Homo sapiens: one gene and its partners. The protein of the gene in region 3 purifies or fractionates together with the protein of the main gene of each other region. This does not show direct contact. Each region holds a gene or a part of one and is shown on either strand. Other genes may lie near its edges. The genes, in order: TPD52L2, PSMG2 and MMAB.

What was found.
Region 1: the proteins of MMAB (region 3) and TPD52L2 fractionate together in Homo sapiens (co-fractionation; one large-scale study listed by BioGRID). This does not show direct contact.
Region 2: the proteins of MMAB (region 3) and PSMG2 purify together in Homo sapiens (co-immunoprecipitation; one large-scale study listed by IntAct). This does not show direct contact.

Annotation. Positions count from the first base shown.
Region 1 is NC_000020.11:63,871,709-63,875,358, reverse strand, and holds part of TPD52L2 (tumor protein D54), read right to left. Parts: intron 1,692-3,650; coding exon 1,543-1,691; intron 1-1,542.
Region 2 is NC_000018.10:12,716,505-12,720,154, forward strand, and holds part of PSMG2 (proteasome assembly chaperone 2), read left to right. Parts: intron 1-2,012; coding exon 2,013-2,131; intron 2,132-3,650. UniProt on the Homo sapiens protein: Chaperone protein which promotes assembly of the 20S proteasome as part of a heterodimer with PSMG1.
Region 3 is NC_000012.12:109,559,995-109,563,644, reverse strand, and holds part of MMAB (corrinoid adenosyltransferase MMAB precursor), read left to right. Parts: intron 1-1,792; coding exon 1,793-1,865; intron 1,866-2,127; coding exon 2,128-2,225; intron 2,226-2,315; coding exon of another isoform or gene 2,316-2,402; intron 2,403-2,540; coding exon 2,541-2,605; intron 2,606-3,650. UniProt on the Homo sapiens protein: Converts cob(I)alamin to adenosylcobalamin (adenosylcob(III)alamin), a coenzyme for methylmalonyl-CoA mutase, therefore participates in the final step of the vitamin B12 conversion.

The DNA of each region.
Region 1 (3,650 bases), on a different chromosome or scaffold from region 3:
AGGGTATGTTTCAGAGAAGCCACGTGGACAGGGCCAAGTGAGAAAGCAGCACTCCCCAAATTCAGAGCTGAGCGACATCTGGGACAGGTGTCCCAGGGTTATAGGACCACGTCGTCATGTAGGACCACGTCGTCATCGGGGAGGGTCAGAGTCCCTAGGGTTGTGGGACCATATGGTCCTATATATAAATATATATATATATATATTTTTTTTTTTTGAGACAGAGTCTTGCTCTGTCACCCAGGCTGGAGGGCAGTGGCATAATTTTGGCTCACTGCAACCTCCGCCTCCCGGGTTAAAGAGATTCTCCTGCCTCAGCCTCCCTAGTAGCCGAGATCACAGGTGCGCACCACCACGCCCAGCTAAATTTTTTTATTTTTTAGTAGAGACAGGGTTTCTCCATGTTGGTCAGGCTAGTCTTGAACTCCTAACCTCAAGTGATACACCCGCCTCAGCCTCCCAAAGTGCTGGGATTGTAGGCATGAGCCACCATGCCCGGCCCATATGGCCATATCTGGGTCAGAGGCTGTGACCATGCCACACCCACAACAAGGACCACAGAAAAACCGCTCTTGCCAAGGACCTGATCAGTGCTCTCTCAAGTCTGGACCCTGAAACAGTCTTCCTATCATTTTCCACCAGGACAACTAGCCAGTGTGTCTGCCTTTTTAGAACACGTATATAAGCCGGATGTGGTGGCTCACACGTGTAATCCCAAGCATTTTAGGAGGCCAAAACAAGAGGATTGCTTGAGCCCAGAAATTTGAGACCAGCCTAGGTAGCAAAGCAAGACCCTGTCTCTATAAAACGTGAAAAAATTAGCCAGGCATGGTGGCGCACGCCTGTCATCCCAGCTACGAGGGGGGTTGAGTTGGGAGGATTGCTTGAACCCAGGAGGTTGAGGTTGCAGTGAATCATGATTGCGCCACTGCACTCCAGCCTGGGTGACAGAGCGAAACCATCTCAAAAAAGAATAATAATAAAAAAAAAAAAAAGGCCAGCGTGGTGGCCAGCACTTTGGGAGGCTGAGGTGGGTGGATCACAAGGTCAGGAGTTCAAGACCAGCCTGGCCAACATGGTGAAACCCCATCTCTACTAAAAACACACACACACACACACACACACACACAAAAAAAAAAATCAGCCGGGCGCGGTGGGAGGCGCCTGTAATCCCAGCTACTTGGGAGGCTGAGGCAGGAGAATCGCTTGAACCCGGGGGGCAGAGGTTGCAGCGAGCTAAGATCACGCCACTACACTCCAGCCTGGGCGACAGAGTGAGACTCTGTCTCAAAAAAAATAATAATAAAGTACACAAAAACTTAAAAATAAATAAAACACATGTAGACACCAAGCTTTTTGAACAAACAAGGCACAGTCGCTGGGCCAAGGGCTCAGAGCCTCTCTCTGGATCCTTCCAAACAGGCCACTCAACTCCACGGCTGCAACTCGTCCCTGGGCATGACGACGCCCCCCCACATGCCGGGGCACGTGTGGTGCCCGTTCTCTTCAGCCCCCAGGGGTGCGCCTGGGGCAGGTACCTACGCGCTAGAGACCTGCACGTCATGCCAGCTCCTGGACAGGTTCTGTTTCAGCTCCCCCAGGGTGGAGAGGCCCAGCCTCCTCTTGAGCTCTCCACAGTGCCTCTCCTTGGCTGCCAGGACCTGGCGCAGAGTGACAATTTCCTCTTCCACCTGCAAAGCATGCAGTTGACATGATGAGCCATCACTACTGCAGGAAGTGACTAACATCCTCATGCACAGTGCCATGAGTTACACAAGAACTTTCCGCTTACCAAAGCATTAACTCGTCCTAGGAATAACAGCATCTACAGCAGACATCTGATTTTTGGGTTTTGGTTTTTTTTTTTTTTTGAGATGGAGTTTCGCTCGTCGCCCAGGCTGGAGTGCAATGGCACGACCTCGGCTCACCGCAACCTCTGCCTTTCAGATTCAAGTGATTCTCCTGCCTCAGCCTCCCAAGTAGCTGGGATTACAGGCGTGTGCCACCCTGCCCGGCTAATTTTGTATTTTTAGTAGAGATGGGGTTTCACCATGTTGGTCAGGCTCGTCTCAAACTCCCAACCTCAGGTGATCCTCCCACCTCAGCCTCCCAAAGTGCTGGGATTACAGGCGTGAGCCACCGCGCCCAGCCAGCAGACATTTGTTTTTATCTGGTACTAGGAACTTGACTCCAGGGAACTATCCCATGCCCCACAACTAAATGGTTCTGGGAGAGCTACCAATCACCATGTCCATTTGTGGTCATGAGGAATGGCCCAGGATGACCATGCCAGGTTTGTCCGAGCTCTTTACTAGGACTGGGCATGGTATTAAAAAGGTGAAGACCGGCCGGGCGCAGTGGCGCATGCCTGTAATCCCAGCACTCTGGGAGGCCAAGGCGGGCGGATCACGAGGTCAGGAGATCGAGACCATCCTGGCTAACACAGTTAACACAGCGAAACCCTGTCTCTACTAAAAAATACAAAAAATTAGCCAGGCACGGTGGCGGGCACCTGTAGTCCCAGCTACTCGGGAGGCTGAGGCAGGAGAATGGTGTGAATCCAGGAGGCAGAGCTTGCGGGTGAGCCAAGATTGTGCCACTGCACTCCAGCCTGGGTGACAGAGCGAGACTCCATCTCAAACAAAACAAAACAACAACAACAAAAAAATGGTGAAGACCCTGGCCGGGCACAGTGGCTCACGCCTGTAATCCCAGCACTTTGTGAGGCCAAGGCAGGCAGATTATCTGAGGTCAGGAGTTTGAGACCAGCCTGGCCAACATGACAAAACCCCGTCTCTACTAAAAATACAAAAATTAGCCAGGTATGGTGGTGCACGCCTGTAACCCCAGCTACTCGGGAGGCTGAGGCAGGAAAACTGTTTGAACCCAGGAGACAGAGGTTGCAGTGAGCCGAGATCATGCCACTGCACTCCAGCCTAGGTGACAGACCGAGACTGTTTCAAAAACAAACAAACAAACAAAAAACAGTGAGGATCCTTTTCCCTCAGGGCTCTCAGTCTGGGCTTGGACAATAGAAGCTGGAACTGTTGGCAGCCGGGCACCGTCTGCACTCATAGAATTCCATATGCAGAGAGGAGGAGGCAGATGGACAGTGACACAGGTGACAGAAAAAAACACCCTTAAGAAAACACTTGTGTTCCTGAGGTCAGTTCCAAACCTTGGCAAGAGTCAGTTACACGAACCAAAAGGTAAATTATCTTTTGTGCTTAACGTAGTTAGAACTGAGCAACAGAAAGATTCCTGATCATGAAGACTTGAACTTTCTCAGGTCTTTAAAAAAAAAAAAAAAAAAAAAGAACATGACCTCTGAAAGGGGCATCATTCAAAGCTTTACCACTTTAGAATGAGTTCTCAGTATCTTCAGCTCATATATGACTAGCTTCTCTTTAAAAATTCTCTTTCTTGGCCGGGTACGATAGCTCATGCCTGTAATCCCAGCACTTTGGGAGGCCGAGGCGGGCAGATCACCTGAGGTCAGGAGTCCGAGACCAGCCTGACCAATATGATGAAAGGCCGTCTCTACCAAAAATACAAAAATTAGCCAGGCGTGGTGGCATGCACCTGTAACCCCAGGTACTCGGGAGGCTGAGACAGGAGAATCACTTGAACCTGGGAGGCAGAGGCTGCAG
Region 2 (3,650 bases), on a different chromosome or scaffold from region 3:
TGCCTCAGCCTCCCGAGTAGCTGGGACTACAGGCGCCCACCATCACGCCCGGCTAATTTTTTTGTATTTTTAGTAGAGACGGGGTTTCACCGTGTTAGCCAGGATGGTCTCGATCTCCTGACCTTGTGATCTGCCCGCCTCAGCCTCCCAAAGTGCTGGGATTACAGGCGTGAGCCACCGTGCCTGGCCACAAGACTAATTTCAAAATAGCAAACATTTATTGAGCATTGATTCTTTGTGCTGATACTGTTCTAAGTACCTTATATTTATTACTTAATCCTCATGACAAACCTATAAGACAGATACTAATATTATCCTTATTTTTCAAAGGAAACACTGAAGTACAGAAAGATTAAGCAATTGCCTGACACATGATCTTAGGGAGGCAGGACCAGCACTCTAACCCAGGCAGCCTGGCTCCAGAGCTTGCCTTTTTTCTTTTACTTTTTTTTTTTTTTTTTTTTTTGAGACAGGGTGTCACTCCACCCAGGCTGGAGTGCAGTGGCACAACTATGGCTCACTACAGCCCTGACCTCCGAGGCTCAAATGATCCTCCCACCTCAGCCTCCTGAGTACCTGGGGCTACAGACGTGCACTACCATGTGTAATAATTTTTTTTTTTTTTGTAGTAACAGGGTCTCACTATATTGCCTAGGCTGGGCTTTAACTCCTGGGCTCAAGTAGTCTGCCCACCACGGCCTCCCAAAGTGTTGGGATTACAGGAGTGAGCCACCTTGCCTGTCCCAGAGCCTGCCTCTCTTAACTGCTGCACTAGACTACCTTCTTATTTTAAAAGTTAGCCTGCATTTCTCTTACCTGCATTTTAAATTTTATTGAGTAGTTATTTTATGAGCAGTCTTTGAAAAATTTTCATAAAGCGGGCTCCCCCTGAAATTTTATAACCCACATTCCAGATTTACCAGCTGTGAATGTCTTGCCACACCTACTTGATCTCTCGCTATGCGCGTACACAGTTTCCTTCTTCGAAACAATCCAGAAGTAGGCTAGCAATGGTCACCCCTACATACTTCCGCACACATCTTTCAAGAACAGGACACCATTACCACACCCAAGAAAACCAGCATTTAATGAATTTATTCAGGAGTATCATCCAACATACTCAAATTTCCACAGCTGTTCCGAAAGTATCCTTCAATTCTGGATCCATTGATGGTTCACAGGTTGTATTTGGCTGTTACATCTTTTTAGTTGTTATCCTTCAGAGTAAAACTGGCCTGCCCCTCTTTCTTTCTTTACAATATTGACTCCTTTGAGGAACCGGGGCTGGATGTGGAGCATTCTCCATTCATCTGATTGTTTCCATGTGACCAGATTCGGGTCACAAATTTCTGGCAAGAACCCTTCACAGATGACCATGTATTGGTTATTAGGTAACAATAGATTACTCAAGTAGAGAACTGGGAAATTGTCCTTTGTCCATCACAATAGATTTTTTTTGAAATCTAGATTCCTCATGATTCATTGATTTCTTTTCTTTTTCTTTTTTCTTTTTTTTTTTTTTTTGAGAAAGTTTCACTCGGTTCCCCCGGCTGGAGTGCAATGGCACAATCTCGGTTCACTGCAGCCTTCACCTCCTGGGTTCAAGTGATTCTCCTGTCTCAGCCTCCTGAGTAGCTGGGATTATAGGTGCCTGCCACCATGCCCCGCTGATTTTTTTATTTTTAGTAGAGATGGGGTTTTACCATGTTGGCCAGGCTGGTCTTGAACTCTTGACCTCAGGTGATCCGCCTGCCTCCCAAAGTGCTGGGACTACAGGCGTGAGCCACCATGCATGGCCATTGATTTCTTAATTATAAAGATACATTAGATAATTCATTGCTCTTTATCATTCACTTTCGGTTTAAGCACAGTAAGTGGATCTGAAAATAATTTCAGTATATATAAATTATATATCATTATCACATAAAGTTGATGAAATAGTATATAGAATGTTTGTATGCTCTAAGACTAACTTTTAGATTTTCTTTTTATTCTCTCAATGGTGTGCAAAGTATAAATCAAAGCCATTCTGTGAAAAACTGCTTTCCTGGGTGAAAAGCAGTGGCTGTGCCAGAGTCATTGTTCTTTCAAGCAGTCATTCATATCAGCGTAATGATCTGCAGCTTCGTAGGTATGTTTCTGCCTCTGGAAAGTTATTTTTGGTATGGTTTATACTATGATAATTTCTCTATTAAAAAGTTAAACTTTAAAAGCCACGTAGATCCTTACCTCTTCTTACTGGAGTTTAGAAAGAGGGGGGTAAGAGAAGGTCAGGAGATGGGAGGGAGTACAGTTAGGCAGATCTTTTCAGTTCCTGTGAGCTTAGTAGAGTTGGGGCATGGGGAAGACATCGTGTAGAGAGAGAGAGTTTGGGAACCATGTTTTTAGTGTTTCCCGTCACATACATGGCAACATCACAGAGCTCAGCTAATTGAAGAGAATAAGCAGAAAAGGTACTCAAGATTTATAAAGTTGCTAACTTTTGAAAGGTTAATATTTTCAGTTATTTCCATATGTTACCTTGAAAGATTAATATTTTCAGTTATTTCCATATATGCTACCATTTTTTAAAAAACATTTACTTTTTGTAGAGACAGGGTCTAGCTATGTTGCCCAGGCTGGTCTCGAATTCCCAGGCTCAAGCAGTCTGCCTGCCTCAGCCTCCCAAAGTATTGGGATTGCATGTGTGAGCCCCCCGCACCTGGCCACATGCAACCATTCGTATTTGCAGAAATCCACTTGCCTAAAGGGTAGCTCCCTGGCATGTCAGAGTGAGTTCTTAAATGTAAGACAGAGTATCCCAGAAATAGAACTATAAGCTATCATTACCACATAAAGTTGATAACATATCATATAGAATACTCTTATACTCTAAGATGTAGCTTTTATTTATTTATTTTTGAGACGGAGTCTTGCCCTGTCACCCAGGCTGGAGTGCAGTGGCATGGTCTCAGCTCACTGCAACCTCCACCTCCTGGATTCAAGCGATTCTCCTGCCTCAGCCTCCTGAGTAGCTGGGATTACAGGTACCTGCCGCCACGCCAGACTAATTTTTGTAATTTTAGTGGAGGCTGGGCTTCACTGTGTTGGCCAGGCTGGTCTCAAATTTCTGACCTCAGGTAATTCGCCTGCTGGGTCTCCCAAAATGCTGGGATTACAGGCATGAGTCACTGTGCCCGTCCCCAGGATGTAGCTTTTTTTTTTTTTCCTCTTTTTTTTTTTGAGACGGAGTCTTTCTCAGTTGCCCAGTTCTCAGTTGCCCAGGCTGGAGTGCAGTGGCGCAATCTCGAGTCACTGCAACCTCTGCCTCCTGGGTTCAAGCGGTTCTCCTGCCTCAGCCTCCCGAGTACTTGGGACTACAGGCGCATGCCACCACACCCGGCTAATTTTTTGTGTTTTTAGTAGAGACAGGATATTGGCCAGGCTGGTCTCGAACTCCTGACCTCAGGTGATTTGCCTGCCTGGGCCTCCCAAAGTGCTGGGATTACAGGCATGAGCCACCACGCCCGGCCCCAAGATGTAGCATTTAGATCATTTATTTTTTATTTTTTATTCTTTTGGGGATGGAGTCTCACTCTGTCACCCAGGCTGGAGTGCAGTGGCACAGTCTTGGCTCACTGTAACTGTTTTAGATGATGTAGATCATAACT
Region 3 (3,650 bases):
CGCAGCTGTCACGTCACCTCCTCAAGGGCCTTCCCTGGCCACCTAATCTCCAGCTGGGTTAGGCACTGCTCCTGGATTTCCACATCCTCTAACCACAGGCATCACAAGGGGTGTTAACCTGTTCACCCATCCACCTCCCACCCAGCCTTGGCACTGTGAGGGCGGGGACAGTGTCTGGTTCACCTGGGAGCCCCGCCTGGCCTGGTAGCCGCTCGCAGGGCCTGTGGATGAGGCCGGGCAGCAATGCCACTGCTTTCCTCATATCACCCATTTCACCCTCACAGACACCCGTGAGGTGGAAGTTAATGTCCACAGCTTATAGGGAGCCAAACTGAGCCTCAGAAAGGCTGACTTGCCCAGCCCCCACAGCCAGGCATCAGTAGAGCTGGAATCTGATTCCCAAACTGGTGCCATTTCTCCCCAGCCCTTGGGGTACACGCTGCACGTGGCCAACCAAGTGGGTAGTATTATCACTCCCGCTTTGACTGTGAAAGTGCAGAGACCCCAAGCAGGGAAGCAGCTTGCCCAAGGTCTGCTGGTCAGAAGCCCTGGGAAGGTTCCAGCCCAGTGCTGGATGGGCAGCCTCTGCTCTCACACACCATGGCCTGCTTCTTGAATGCTGTCACAGTGGCCATCTTAGGAGAGGTCAGAAGTCGCAGACCTTCACCCTCCTGGTAGCCCACCATCCAGCTTGAGTGGACCCTGGCTGGGCACAAAGTCAGAGGTGGTACTTGTGGTCTTCACATGCATGAGAGCTGTTGGACATTTGTCATGCAGGGGCCTGGAGTCCTGCAGCAGACCTTAACAGACCACTTCTGTTCCAAGCAAACCCACTCCCCACCTGGACAGAGCACAGGCCTCACCCAGCCAGGCTTCCTGCTCCCAGAATCCCCACACGCCTCGGCTGACTACATTCTCCAAGCTCCTTGTCCTTTAGAGTTTAGAAAGCACTGTCACATTTGACCTCTTGGCCCAACTGTTACAGGTTAGAAAACCAAAGCTGTCAAATGTTGAGAAAAGAAGAAAACCTCACAGGGCCTAGGTGCACAGGAGACGTGGACAGAGCCCAGACGGTTCCTCTTGACTGTCCCTGGGTGTGTGATGCGTGTCATCTGCTTAACCCAGCTGCTGCCCCCATGGGAGCCTTTTCCTCCCTCAGACTGCAAAAGAGCCACACCAGGTCCCCCTCAGCAGGGCTGGGTGTCCAACGAAGATGTTGTGCTGAAAGTTCAGAGTTTGCTTTCAAATGTCAGCCAGTTCAAGGTCTGATAGCCTGTATTAGTCTGTTCTCGCACTGCTATAAAGAACTACCTGAGACCGGATAATTTATAAAGAAAAGAAGTTTAATCTGCACATGGTTTTGTGGGCTGTACAGGCTTCTGCTTCTGGGGAGGCCTCAGGAAACCTACAGTCATGGCGGAAGGCAAAGGGGAAGCAGGTACATCTTCACATGGCTGATAGGAGAGAGAGAGTGTGAAGAGGGAGGTGCTACACACTTTCAAACAACCACATCTCATGAGAACTCTATCACAAGACAGCACTAGGGGGCTGGGGCTAAACCATTCAAAACTACCCCAATGATCCAATCACCTCCCACCAGGCCCCACCTCCAACTCTGGGGATCACAATTTAACATGAGATTTGGATGGGGACACATTGCCAAACCATATCACAGCCCTTCATGAGCTAGCTGGCACAGGCTTTGCCGGCGTATTAGGTGGCGCCTCTGCACATTGTCTCTGTCCAGCCCATCTCACATAGATCTTGACTGTCACTTTCTGTCGCCCCCCAGATCCAGTGCACATTGCAGGACGTCGGCTCGGCCCTGGCGACACCATGCTCCTCGGCCCGGGAGGCTCACTTAAGTAATTCTCAAACTCCTGTGGGTGTTCAGAGGGCCCTAGGGTCAGGGGACTCTCCTAGGGTCACCATCTGGGATCCCAGGCCCCCAGGGACCCACGGGTGGGTCAGTTAGCCTTGCTCGTAGCTCCTGGGAGGGAAGGTACCTTCTGAGCCAGTGGAAGCAGTCTGCGGGACACCCAGGTGGAAGGGCGGCGGGGGTGGTTCCCGCCATGGTCTGGTGGGTGATGGCCTCATGGCAGTTCCCTCTGCTCCTTGGCTCCTCAGAGTATACCACGTTCAAGGCGGGGCCCATCCTGGAGCTGGAGCAGTGGATCGACAAGTACACCAGCCAGCTCCCACCACTCACGGCCTTCATCCTGCCTGTAGGTACTGGGCAGGCTTAACCGGGGGCGGCTGCAGGCAGGTTCAGTGACAGACACACATGGGCTCTGAATAAATCCCTCTTTTCACAGTGACAGACGCTGTCCTCCAGTTCCCCAAGTCCCTCCAGGTCCTCACCGGTCCCTCCCAGCCCTGCCCACTCTGGAGCAGCGTGCCCGGTGGGTGTGCCGTGGCAGGGCTCCTGGAGGCAGAACACTGCCCGGTTTGGGGGGCAGGGCTGGACTTCAGAGGAGCTCCTGTCCGCAGTGGGCACACCTTTCCCACCCTGCTCAGGCAATGTCCCTTTCTCCTTTCAGTCGGGAGGCAAGATCAGCTCGGCGCTGCATTTCTGCCGGGCCGTGTGCCGCCGGGCCGAGAGACGGTAAGAGGGCTGGAGAGAGGGAGAGGGCCCAAGGGAGAGGGAGAGGAACAAGGGGGAGGGGGGAGGGAGAGGGAGAGGAGGACGGAGATGGGGAGAGGGAGAGGGGCCTCTGCACAGCGGGCAGGAGGCAGGTACAGCAGGGCCATCTCTGAGCCATCCAGCCACACATCAACAGACCTTGTCTGGGCCCCTCCACTGTGCCAGACGGGGACCAGGACAGACCAAGTCCCTGTCCTCAGAGCACCATGTTGTGAAGTGGAGACAGTGACATGTGACCAAATAGACTATCAGACAACACAATTGCACCTTGTTTGTGAGCCCTGTATTCTGAGAACAGCAGGAAGTTATTGCTGGGTTCTCAGCCTCAGCCATCTTGGGGACAGGGGTAGACATGAAAGGACCCTGCTGGCTGCTGGGTGCATAAGGCTCCTGAAAGGCCTGCATGGCTGTGGGGAGCCCAGGTGGACGTTGTCAGCAGACTAGCCACCACCTCCTCCAAAGCTACTGACAGCCTTTTCAAGGAATCTTTAGAAGAAAATGAGCAAAGTCTCTATCTACACCACTCAGAGACCAGGCTGCCAGCCAGCTTTACAGAGAAGAGAAAGCAAGCCCTACTTTGATCCAATGGACTGGCACTTTATGTTCATAATTTCATTTACTCCTTGTTGATAGCCCTGGGAGAGAGGTGGTGGTGGCCTCTGTTTTACAGGAGTCAGGAAGCTGTGGCTCAGAGAAATGACACCATGGTCACGGTCCCCCACATGGTTGATAGCAGAATCCAGATTGGAGTCCACGTCTGTCTGGGCCAAGCCTGAGCTCTTCCACGGTCCCACACCACTAAGGTTTTGTTCTTTATGAAAGGCTCTCGGGCCCAGATAGCTCCTTAGAGATCCCAGGTAACAGAACAAGCTTTGGCTTCAAAAGAAAAAACTGTCATTTGTACAAAGCCATCCATCAGCAGTGCTCATAATAGCAAGAAACTGGAAACAACCCAAAGGCCCCGAAAACAGGCATGGCGGAGCAGCTGATAGGTCCTCCATGCAGC